2 separate regions of the Homo sapiens genome follow, and region 2 is linked to region 1. The links come from fine-mapping of genetic effects on gene expression. A gene starts in region 1. The other region holds a variant in brackets. All regions are shown on one strand. Distances are between the middles of the regions.

The links.
Region 2: its variant is fine-mapped to the expression of KLHL9 in whole blood (INTERVAL, PIP above 0.99).

What each region holds. Positions count from the first base shown.
Region 1 is chr9:21,332,485-21,337,869 of GRCh38, forward strand. It overlaps KLHL9 (kelch like family member 9), which reads right to left and starts at 2,920. Exons shown (of 1, transcript NM_018847.4): 1 at 1-2,920. The coding sequence starts at 2,375. The coding sequence ends at 522. LOC107987053 (a long non-coding RNA gene) reads left to right here. Exons shown (of 3, transcript XR_001746634.2): 3 at 4,137-4,817. RefSeq lists enhancers at 2,350-2,399, 2,590-2,899 and a silencer at 2,940-3,109.
Region 2 is chr9:21,271,907-21,277,291 of GRCh38, forward strand. The region is part of intron 2 of LOC107987053 (a long non-coding RNA gene); the gene reads left to right. Among named protein-coding and RNA genes, the nearest start is that of IFNA5, 31 kb to the right of the region's middle. The variant G/A (reference allele first, on the strand shown) is at 2,942.

The DNA.
Region 1 (5,385 bases):
GGTGCTATACTGTTTTTTCCTAGTTAATATTTTTATTATTTCTGTCTACGTAAGAAACTTCAAATATTCTGAATGCAACCACACAATCGAGTAAGTTGACAGACATGACAAAAACTACGAAAAGAGGGAGGTAACTAGTATTAATACTTGGCAACCTTTCGTTATTTTTAGTTTAGAGCGGCCTCCCTCTGACATTTTGGAGTCAAAGATGAAAACTCAACTTTGAAGCATAATGGACATAATTACACATTTACCACAGTCATCTACAATTTTATATAACATCACAAAAAGACATCTAAACATTTTTCTACGTCTTTTTTTCATTTGTTAAAACAGCTATGTTAAATACATTTTCAGAATGCATTTGTTAGCCACTTGATAAACATACTAAAAGCCATACAAGACGAATAACATCAGTTACCTTTATATCTAATAACTGTACCAATCACTGTAAGAAGATACAACTGAAGGGGAAGTATTAGATCACCCATGACGTACTGCAAAGGTGTTACACCTTAGACCTAAGAATGATCTGAAGGTGCTGAAAGAGGTGATTCTCTAGAAGGTGACCCAGGGTTTTCTTCAGGTGGAAAAACTGTGAGTGTACAGGCTCGAATGCCACCAAGTGACTCTGGAAGATCAAAAACTTTATGCCACTCATCTTTTTCTGGGTCATATTTCTGGACAATTTCTACCATACAACGATTATTCCAAGAATATCCACCAACAACATAGATTTTATTTTCAAAGACGGCAACTCCAACATCACTTTGGCCTCTTAACATGGCGGCAATTGGGGTCCACTGGTCAAGGGTTGGTGAATAGTATTCACAGCTTAGAACATCATCATAATCACTTGTTCCTCTGAAGTGATTGCCACCAATGACATAGAGCTTATCTCCAACTGTACACATGCAATGCAGACCTCTGACTGTAGTCATTGGAGCCTTTTGCATCCATTTATCTGTATCTGGGTCAAAACACATGAGCTCATTTTGGAAAGTGTCATGGGTAATTCCTCCTGAAATATACATTAAGCCTCCATATACTGTTCCAGCATGACCATAGTGGGGTTCACTCATTTTTGCAACATAGCTCCACTCATTCATTCTTGGGTTGTAACATTCTACTGTGGCCAGTTCACCAGCTGCACTGCGCCCACCAACTGCATACAAATGTCCTTTGAGGGCACTCAAGTGAAAGAATGTGCGCTTTTCATTTAATGATGCAACCTGCATCCATTTATTATACCGAGGATCAAATCTGAAAACTGTATCAACAGCAGTTTTTCCTTTTGTATCATAATTACTCTGACCACCAACTACATAAAGAAAGTTTCCAATGACAGCAATACCATGCTGGTAACGGGGAGCATCCATTGGGGCTAAAGATCTCCATTCTTGTGCCCTTTCATCATACATCCGTAATTCTTTACTGACAACCAGCTGCTGCCTCAAAACTCCTCCTAATGTAACCAAGTGAGTGGAGTCAGATCGAATGGCAGTTCTATCTGACTGCATCACTGGCTGCATATATGGCATCATTTGGTAATTGCTAGCTTCCAAAAGCAAATTCACGCAGGTATTGTCTGTTCTCATGAAATCTACTGTCTGCACGTAATTGATGAGATCCTGTGGTGTCATCAGTGGAAATCGAATATTCTTCATTAACTTTGCAGCATAATCCATCCGAGGGTCTTCCAACCTTAGCCAGCGACAGGCTGCCTTAAAGAGTTCAAGTTCGGTACAGTGCTTAAGACTATTACTGGAAAGCACAAATGCAAGTCGTTCAAAAGGGAGTTTTAGAAACTCCCCAGTACTCAATAAAGCAGGAAAGTTCTTCAGGATGAAATTATTAACATATTTATCCACTTCTATAAGATTGTAGGTGTTAGCAATTCGTCCAACCTCAACACAGTTATCCAAAGAGACTCCTGATATAAGAAATACTTTACAGAAATCCAAAACGGGTAATATTTGTAAAAAGCTAGCAGCTTCAAGTGTGTCCTGAAGATTGTCCATATTAAGAGAAAGTTTTGCAGTATAAATAAAATCAATGATTTTCTTCAGACCAACCTTGTTCACCCCATGAAGCTTAATGCACATCAAATCTTGTTCTTTCATTCCACCTGTGAACATGGCTTTGAAATAATCACTAGCAGACGCCATCATAGCTCTGTGAACAGGGAAGATTTCATCTCCATCACCTGGTACCAGGGTCACATCACAAAGCAATCCTTCTATTCTAAGCTGATCAAAGCCTTGCAATACCACCGAACTGTGAGTATTGCTGGTAAAAAAGCGTGTGGTTCCTGCCTTACAAGGCTGCAAATGGGCAGAGACGCCCATTTCGCCGTTACCAAGGGACACTTTCATGTGAAAGCTTTCCTCTTGCACAGAGATGCAAGCCGGATAAAGAAGTTATAACCGGAATGTTTTACAGGTAACGAGGTGTCCAGAAAGAACAGAAAGCTCGTTTCCTTATCAAGGGAAGGCAGTCACTGCGGCACCCCTCGGGCCACGCCAGTCAGTCATCCACTGAAAATCACCCTGTAGCAGGACCACAAAGGGCTGTGGACCTCAAATCTGATTATTAGACAGATGATTCATCACCTGAAGGCGGTTAAATGACCTGGTTCACCTCGTCCGGCCTGCGCTGCCGCTCCTTCAGCAGTTCCGCTTCGGGCAAGGAAGAGGCGCCGCCACGTACTGTGGCTCCACGGCCCGCTCGGCGGCGGGTCCGGACACCTCAGCGAACGGCCCGCTGCGCCCTCCGCTGTACCTAGAGTGTCGCAGCGGCCACCGGCCTGTCTTTGAGCAAGGGCCGGGAACACAGGCCTGGGCCTGGGCTTGGGCCTAGAATACCGGCCTAGCCCCAACACCGAGCCGCTCCTTCCGGAAAAGCCTAGTCCCAGGATACCACGGGGTGGGAGCGGCCTTAGCGGCTACTGCGGCTGCGCGGCCTCCAGACCTCGTCAGTCAGCGGGAGGGTGGGGGTGGGGAAGGGGGAGGAAGTACCCGGGAGGCGGGAGGGCGAGGGTTGGGGAAGCGGAGCTGTGTGGGGTGGGCGCCAGCCCGGCCTCTTAGAGCTGCCTTGTATGTGGGACCAAATAGGACAGAATGTGTGCAAGCAAGTGTGTTATGCTGCACGTTTGATATAAGTTTTTCGCATATCTGAGCTCTTACGTTCCCCAAATGCATAATTTTTCAAAGCTTTACGCTTCCTAGCTTCTGTTTTTTTGAATAACAGTGAAATGCGGCATTTGTATAAATTGAGAGGAAACCTGGATGCTTAATTTTTTTTTTCCTCTACAAAACAATAATTGTTATCCCACATTATGTAGTAGATACTTCAGTTACAATTTTGGTTCATATTTTCAAATTTGTTACAATTTCAAACGCAAAATATTTGTCTTTACTAGATTGTTACTTTATTATGTAAATGATATATTCTAAATTTTTGGCTTGAAATGCCTTTGTTTTCCACAATTTTAAAAATGGCTACATAATTTTCCAATAACTATACATACTATAGTTTCCTTTGCCCATTGGTTTGTTCCTGAATGTGTACCTTCTTATCCTCCATTGTTTTATAGACTCGGTAGTAAACTTATACAATCTGGTAGCAAAATTTTAGCCCTGTTATGGATAATATTTAGTAAAATACTGATCCAAGACAATATTTCCAAAATATTATCACCAACAATGTTTGTGTCTTTCCCTTCTTCTGACTTTTCCCTTTGTGAGTATTTTATTAACTTGCATTTCTTTAATTAGTGGTAAATTTAAATTTTGACATACAAATAAATGTATACTTTGACACAATTTCTTCCATTTTCCAAATTTTGAAGTTTCTGTCTTTTAAATCCTTCTAGTTCTTTATGCATATGCAAAGTAAGAATGTAGTCATGTTTTTCTTACACTCGCCTCGTTTTTATGTAAAAGATAGCATACCATGTACACTGTTCTGCATCTTTTTTTTTCACTTCAAGATCTTCCTGAATTAGTGTAGAGGGCTTATTTATATTTTTAAACAATTCTGTTGTTGCCTTCTGAGTTGTTACATCATAAGTTATTTAACCAGTGCCCTGTTGATGGGCAGTTCATCTGTTTTGAATGTTTTCTATTGTTTCCAAGGGATGGCAGCAAAATTCAGAAGGCTTAGACTACCACTGTCCTCCACAAGGTGCTCCAGCAGATTGTCACCTTATTCAACACAAGAGGTTGGTTGGAATGAAACTGGCCTGGAGAAATTATTCACTGAATTTTTATCAGCATTGGGAAGTCCTGGAGCCCTGCTTGTTGAATGAGTTAGGGGTGGAAGGGCTCTCTCAGGCCATGACAACTCCCTAATGCTGTGAAGAGCTACTTCCAAGGAATCAGTCTCTATCTGGAAAAGAAAGAAGAGAGCCTCTGTACATGGGAAGTTGGAGCAAGAAATCATGAGATCCTTCTTTTTTTCATCAAACTTGCAAGTAAGATTAATAGCTTAGGAACAGACTTGTGTCTTCATGAAATGATTACTATAGACACTCTTCATTATATTCCCATATGTTTAGTTATTTTAAAAGACTATCTTTTCTGCCTGCATAATGAAATGATTGAATCAAATTTGTCACAATACTTGTTGGTAATGTCAAGCAACTGTATGATAAAGCATCCAGTTCTTAGGGGCATTAGCTCACCATGGATGATATTATTAATTTACCCATGTACTTAATTATTGATTCTACTACATTTATTGTATTCAGTATTTTTGCTTGTATGAAATGTTCACTTTTAACACTGTGCTAATTACATTAAAAAGTGTTCACTTTATGTATATTTTGTTTGTTTGTTTTGTTTTGTTTTGTTTTGACGGAGTCTCGCTCTGTCACCCAGGCTGGAGTACAGTGGTGCGATCTCGGCTCACTGCAACCTCCGCCTCCCAGGGTCAAGCAATTCTCCTGCCTTAGCGTCCCGAGTAGCTGGGACTACAGGTGCGCGCCACCATGCCCAGCTAATTTTTTGTATTTTTAGTAGAGATAGAGTTTCACCATGCTGGCCAGTCTGCTCTCAAACTCCTGACCTTGTGATCCGCCTGCCTCAGCCTCCCAAAGTGCTGGGATTACAGGCGTGAGCCACCATGCCTGGCCCCTCACTTTATATTTTGAAAATTATTCTCTTTATTATTTCGAGTTTTACTTTCAGATCATTTTGCATTTGTTTATTTAAAAAAAACAAACACAAGGTCTTGCTCTGTCACTAAGCTGGAGTGCAGTGGCAGGTTCATAGCTCACTACAGCCTCAAACTCCTAGCCTCAACAATCCTCCCACCTCAGCCTCCCACACTGCTGGGATTACTGGCATGAGCCACCATACCTGGCCTTACTCAATAAATCAATGC
Region 2 (5,385 bases), 61 kb before region 1:
TTTATGTGATGGATTACGTTTATTGATTTGCATATGTTGAACCAGCCTTGCATCCCAGGAATGAAGCCGACTTGGTCTTGGTGGATAAGCTCTTTGATGTGTTGCTGGATTTGGTTTCCCAGTATTTTATTGAGGATTTTTGCATTGATGTTCATCAGAGATATTGACTTGACATTTCTTTTTTTTTGATGTGTCTCTGCCAGTTTTTGGTATTAGGATGATGCTGACCTCATAAAATGAGTTAGGGAGGAGCCCTTCTTTTTCTATTGTTTGGCATAGTTTCAGAAGGAATGGTACCAGCTCCTCTTTGTACCTCTGGTACAATTTGGCTGTGAATCCGTCTTGTCCTGGACTTTTTTTGTTGGTAATCTATTAATTACTGCCTCAATTTCAGAAGTTGTTATTGGTCTACTCAGGGATTCGACTTCTTTTTTTTTTCAATTTTTTTTTTATTATACTTTAAGTTCTAGGGTACATGTGCACAATGTGCAGGTTTGTTACATATGTATACATGTGCTATGTTGGTGTGCTGCACCCATTAACTCGCCATTTACATTAAGTATATCTCCTAATGCTATCCCTCCCCACTCCCCCAACCCCACAACAGGCCCCAGTATGTGATGTTCCCCTTCCTGTGTCCAAGTGTTCTCGTTGTTCAATTCCCACCTATGAGTGAGAACATGCAGAGTTTGGTTTTCTGTCCTAGCGATAGTTTGCTGAGAATGATGGTTTACAGCGTCATCCATGTCCCTACAAATGACATGAACTCCTCCTTTTTTATGACTGCATAGTATTCCATGGTGTATATATGCCACATTTTCTTAATCCAGTCTATCATTGATGGACATTTGGGTTGGCTCTAAGTCTTTGCTATTGTGAATAGTGCCACAATAAACATAAGTGTGCATGTGTCTTTGTAACAGCATGATTTATAATCCTTTGGGTATATACCCAGTAATGGGATGGCTGGTTCAAATGGTATTTCTAGCTCTGATCGCCATGCTGCCCTCCGCAATGGTTGAACTAGTTTACAGCCCCACCAACAGTATAAAAGTATTCCTATTTCTCCAAATCCTCACCAGCACCTGTTGCTTCCTGACTTTTTAATGATCGCCATTCTAACTGGTGTGAGATGGTATCTCATTTTGGTTTTGATTTGCATTTCTCTGATGGCCAGTGATGATGAGCATTTTGTCATGTGTTTGTTGGCTGCATAAATGTCTTTTTTTGAGAAGCGTCTGTTCCTATCCTTTGCCCACTTTTTGATGGGGTTGTTTGATTTTTTTCTTGTAAATTTGCTTAAGTTCTTTGTAGATTCTTGATATTAGCCCTTTGTCAGATGGGTAGATTGCAAAAATTTTCTCCCATTCTGTAGGTTGCCTGTTCAATCTGATGGTAGTTTCTTTTGCTGTGCAGAAGCTCTTTAGTTTAATTAGATCCCATTTGTCAATTTTGACTTTTGTTGCCATTGCTTTTGGTGTTGTAGTCATGAAGTCCTTGCCCATGCCTATGTCCTGTATGGTATTGCCTAGGTTTTCTTCTGGGGTTTTTATGGTTTTAGGTCTAACATTTAAGTCTTTAATTCATCTTGAATTAATTTTTGTTCTGCCCTCTCTTACCACTCCTATTCAACATAATGTTGGAAGTTCTGGCCAGGGAAATCAGGCAGGAGAAAGAAATAAAGGGTATTCAATTAGGAAAAGAGGAAGTCAAATCGTCTCTGTTTGCAGAAGACATGATTGCATATTTAGAAAACCCAAACACTTCAGCCCAAAATCTCCTTAAGCTGATAAGCAACTTAAGCAGTCTCAGGATACAAAATCAATGTGCAAAAATCACAAGCATTCCTGTACACCAGTAACAGACAGAGAGCCAAATCATGAGTGAACTCCCATTCACAATTGCTTCAAAGAGAATAAAATACCTAGGAATCCAACTTACAAGGGATGTGAAGCACCTCTTCAAGGAGAACTGCAAACCACTGCTTAATGAAATAAAAGAGGATACAAACAAATGGAAGAACATTCCATGCTCATGGGTAGGAAGAATCAATATCGTGAAAATGGCCATACTGCCCAAGGTAATTTATAGATTCAATGCCATCCCCATCAAGCTACTGATGACTTTCTTCACATAATTGGAAAAAACTACTTTAAAGTTCATATGGAACCAGAAAAGAGCCCGCATTGCCAAGCCAATCCTAAGTCAAAAGAACAAAGCTGGAGGCATCACGCTACCTGACTTCAAACTATACTTCAAGGCTACAGTAACCAAAACAGCATGGTACTGGTACCAAAATAGAGATATAGACCAATGGAACAGAACAGAGCCCTCAGAAATAATACCACACATCTACAACCATCTGATCTTTGACAAACCTGACGAAAACAAGAAATGGAGAAAGGATTCCCTGTTTAATAAATGGTGCTAGGAAAACTGGCTAGCCATATGTAGAAAGCTGAAATGGGATTCAACTTCTTCCTAGTTTAGTCTTGGGAGGGTGTGTGTGTCCAGGAATTTATCCATTTCTTCTAGATTTTCTAGTTTATTTGCACAGAGGTGTTTATAGTATTCTCTGATGGTAGTTTGTATTTCTGTGGGATCAGTGATGATATCCTCTTTATCATTTTTTATTGTGTCTATTTGATTCTTCTCTCTTTTCTTCTTTGTTAGTCTGGCCAGCGGTCTATCTATTTTGTTAATCTGTCCAAAAAACCAGCTCCTGGATTTACTGATTCTTTGAAGGGTTTTTCGTGTCTCTATCTCCTTCAGTTACACTCTGATCTTAGTTATTTGTTGTTTTCTGCTAGCATTTGAATTTGTTTGCTCCTGTTTCTCTAGTTCTTTTAATTGTGATGTTAGGGTGTCGATTTTAGATCCTTCCTGCTTTCTCCTGTGGGCATTTAGTGCTATAAATTTTCCTCTAAACACTGTTTTAGCC[G/A]TGTTTCAGAGATTCTGGTACACTGTGTCTTTGTTCTAATTGGTTTCAAAGAACTTATGTACTTCTGCCTTAATTTCATTATTTATCCAGTAGCCATTCAGGAGCAGGTTGTTCAGTTTCCATGTAGTTGTGGGGTTTTGAGTGAGTTTCTTAATCCCGAGTTCTAACTTGATTGCATTGTGGTCTGAGAGACTGTTTGTTTTGATTTCCATTCTTTTGCGTTTACTGAGGAGTGTTTTATTTCCAATTATGTGGTCAATTTTAGAATAAGTGTGACGTGATGCTGAGAAGAATGTGTATTCTGTTAATTTGGGGTGGAAAGTTCTGCAGATGTCTATTAGGTCTGCTTGGTCCAGAGCTGAGTTCAAGTCCTGAATATCCTTGTTAATTTTCTGTCTTGTTGATCTGTCTAATATTGACAGTGGGGTGTTAAATTCTCCCACTATTATTGTGTGGGAGTCTAAACCTCTTTGTAGGTCTCTAAGAACTTGCTTTATGAATCTGGGTGCTCCAGTATTGGGTGCATATATAGTTAGAATAGTTAGCTCTTCTTGTTGCATTGATCCCTTTAACATTATGTAAAGCCCTTCTTTGTCTTCTTTTTCTTTTTGATCTTTGTTGGTTTAAAGTCTGTTTTATCAGAGACCAGAATTGCAACCCCAGCTTTTTTTTTTTTTTTTTTTTTTTTTTTGCTTTCCATTTGCTTGGTAAATATTCCTCCATCCCTTTATTTTGAGTTTATGTGTCTTTGCATGTGAGATGGGTCTCCTGAATACAGCACACCGATGGGTCTTGACTCTATCCAATTTGCCAGTCTGTGTCTTTTAATTGGGGCATTTTTCCCATTTACATTTAAGGTTAATATTGTTATGTGTGCATTTGATCCTGTCATAATGATGCTAGCTGGTTATTTTGCCCATTAGTTGATGCAGTTTCTTCATAGTTTCAATGGTCTTCACAATTTGATATGTTTTTGTAGTGACTGGTACTGGTTTTTCCTTTTCATATTTAGTGCTTCCTTCAGGAGCTCTTGTAGGGCAGGCCTAGTGGTGACAAAATCTCTCAGCATTTGCTTTTCTGTAATGAATTTTATTTCTCCTTTGCTTATGAAGCTTAGATTGACTGAATATGAAATTCTGGGTTGAAAATTCTTTTAAGAATGTTGAATATTGGGCCCCACTCTTTACTGGCTTGTAGAGTTTCTGCAGAGAGATGCACTGTTGATCTGATGGGCTTCTCTTTTTGGGTAATCCGACCTTTCTCTCTGGCTGCCCTCAACATTTTTTCCTTCATTTCAGCCTTGGTGAATCTGACGATTATGTGTATTGAGTTTGCTTTTCTCAAGGAGTACCTTTGTGGTGTTCTCTGTGTTTCCTGAATTTGAATGTTGACCTGTCTTGCCAGGTTGGGGAAGTTCTCCTGGGTAATATCCTGAAGAGTGTTTCCCAACTTGGTTCCATTCTCCCCTTCACTTTTAGGTACACGAATCAAACGTACGTTTGGTCTTTTCACGTAGTCCCATATTTCTTAGAGTCTGTTCATTTCTTTTCATTCTTTTTTCTCTAATCTTGCCTTCACACTTTATTTCATTAAGTTGATCTTCAATCTCTGATATCGTTTCTTCCACTTGATTGATTTGGCTATTGATACTTGTGACCAATCTTTTTTTGTTTTCTTAAAGCGTTGAGAAAGCGATTCTTTCATCCAGTTTTCCATTTTATTTTATGAAGGAAGTTTGTCAGGTTTTACTGACAATTAACATAGTACTAATCAAAATTATAATTATTGCAACTTTATATGTTATAATTTGATATTATAAAATATTAAGTATATTAACAGCTTTTCAATGCATGAAATCAATCTGCAGACATATATATTTTCAAACGGATAAACCATGCAGGTAAAATGAAATGTGATCCACTTTTTTTTTCATGTCTAACCTTATTTCTTTCCTTTATCTTAAAGGGAAACCTCTCACAACTATTTCTTATCTATTTTGTCACAGATTTCCCTTCTTTGATTCATGCTTCCACCTACTGCAATACGGTTTATAGTGATTAATTCTACCAATGCAGCTCTCACTAAGATCTCCACTGCCATTTATTTTTCTGATGTAGTGGACAGTTTTAATCCATATTTCCCCCAAGTCTATTGATTCTTCTTCTAAATACATTTATTTTCAAGACACACATTTATCACCATTAAGTCTTTCCTTCACTAATGTACAGTTTTCCACCCTTGCTTCCTTTGTGTCTCTTATATCCCCTCTCTTTAAAGGTGGAAGGTCCTCAGAATCAATTTTAGGTTCTTTTTTCCTTTACTTTTCTTTTTCCTCTCCACATGACTGCCTCTATTTTTGGGCTTTCCATTGCCAGTTATGAACCTTCAGGCATTGTATTTCTTGAAAATTGCAAATTCATATATCTGACTGGAAATACACATTT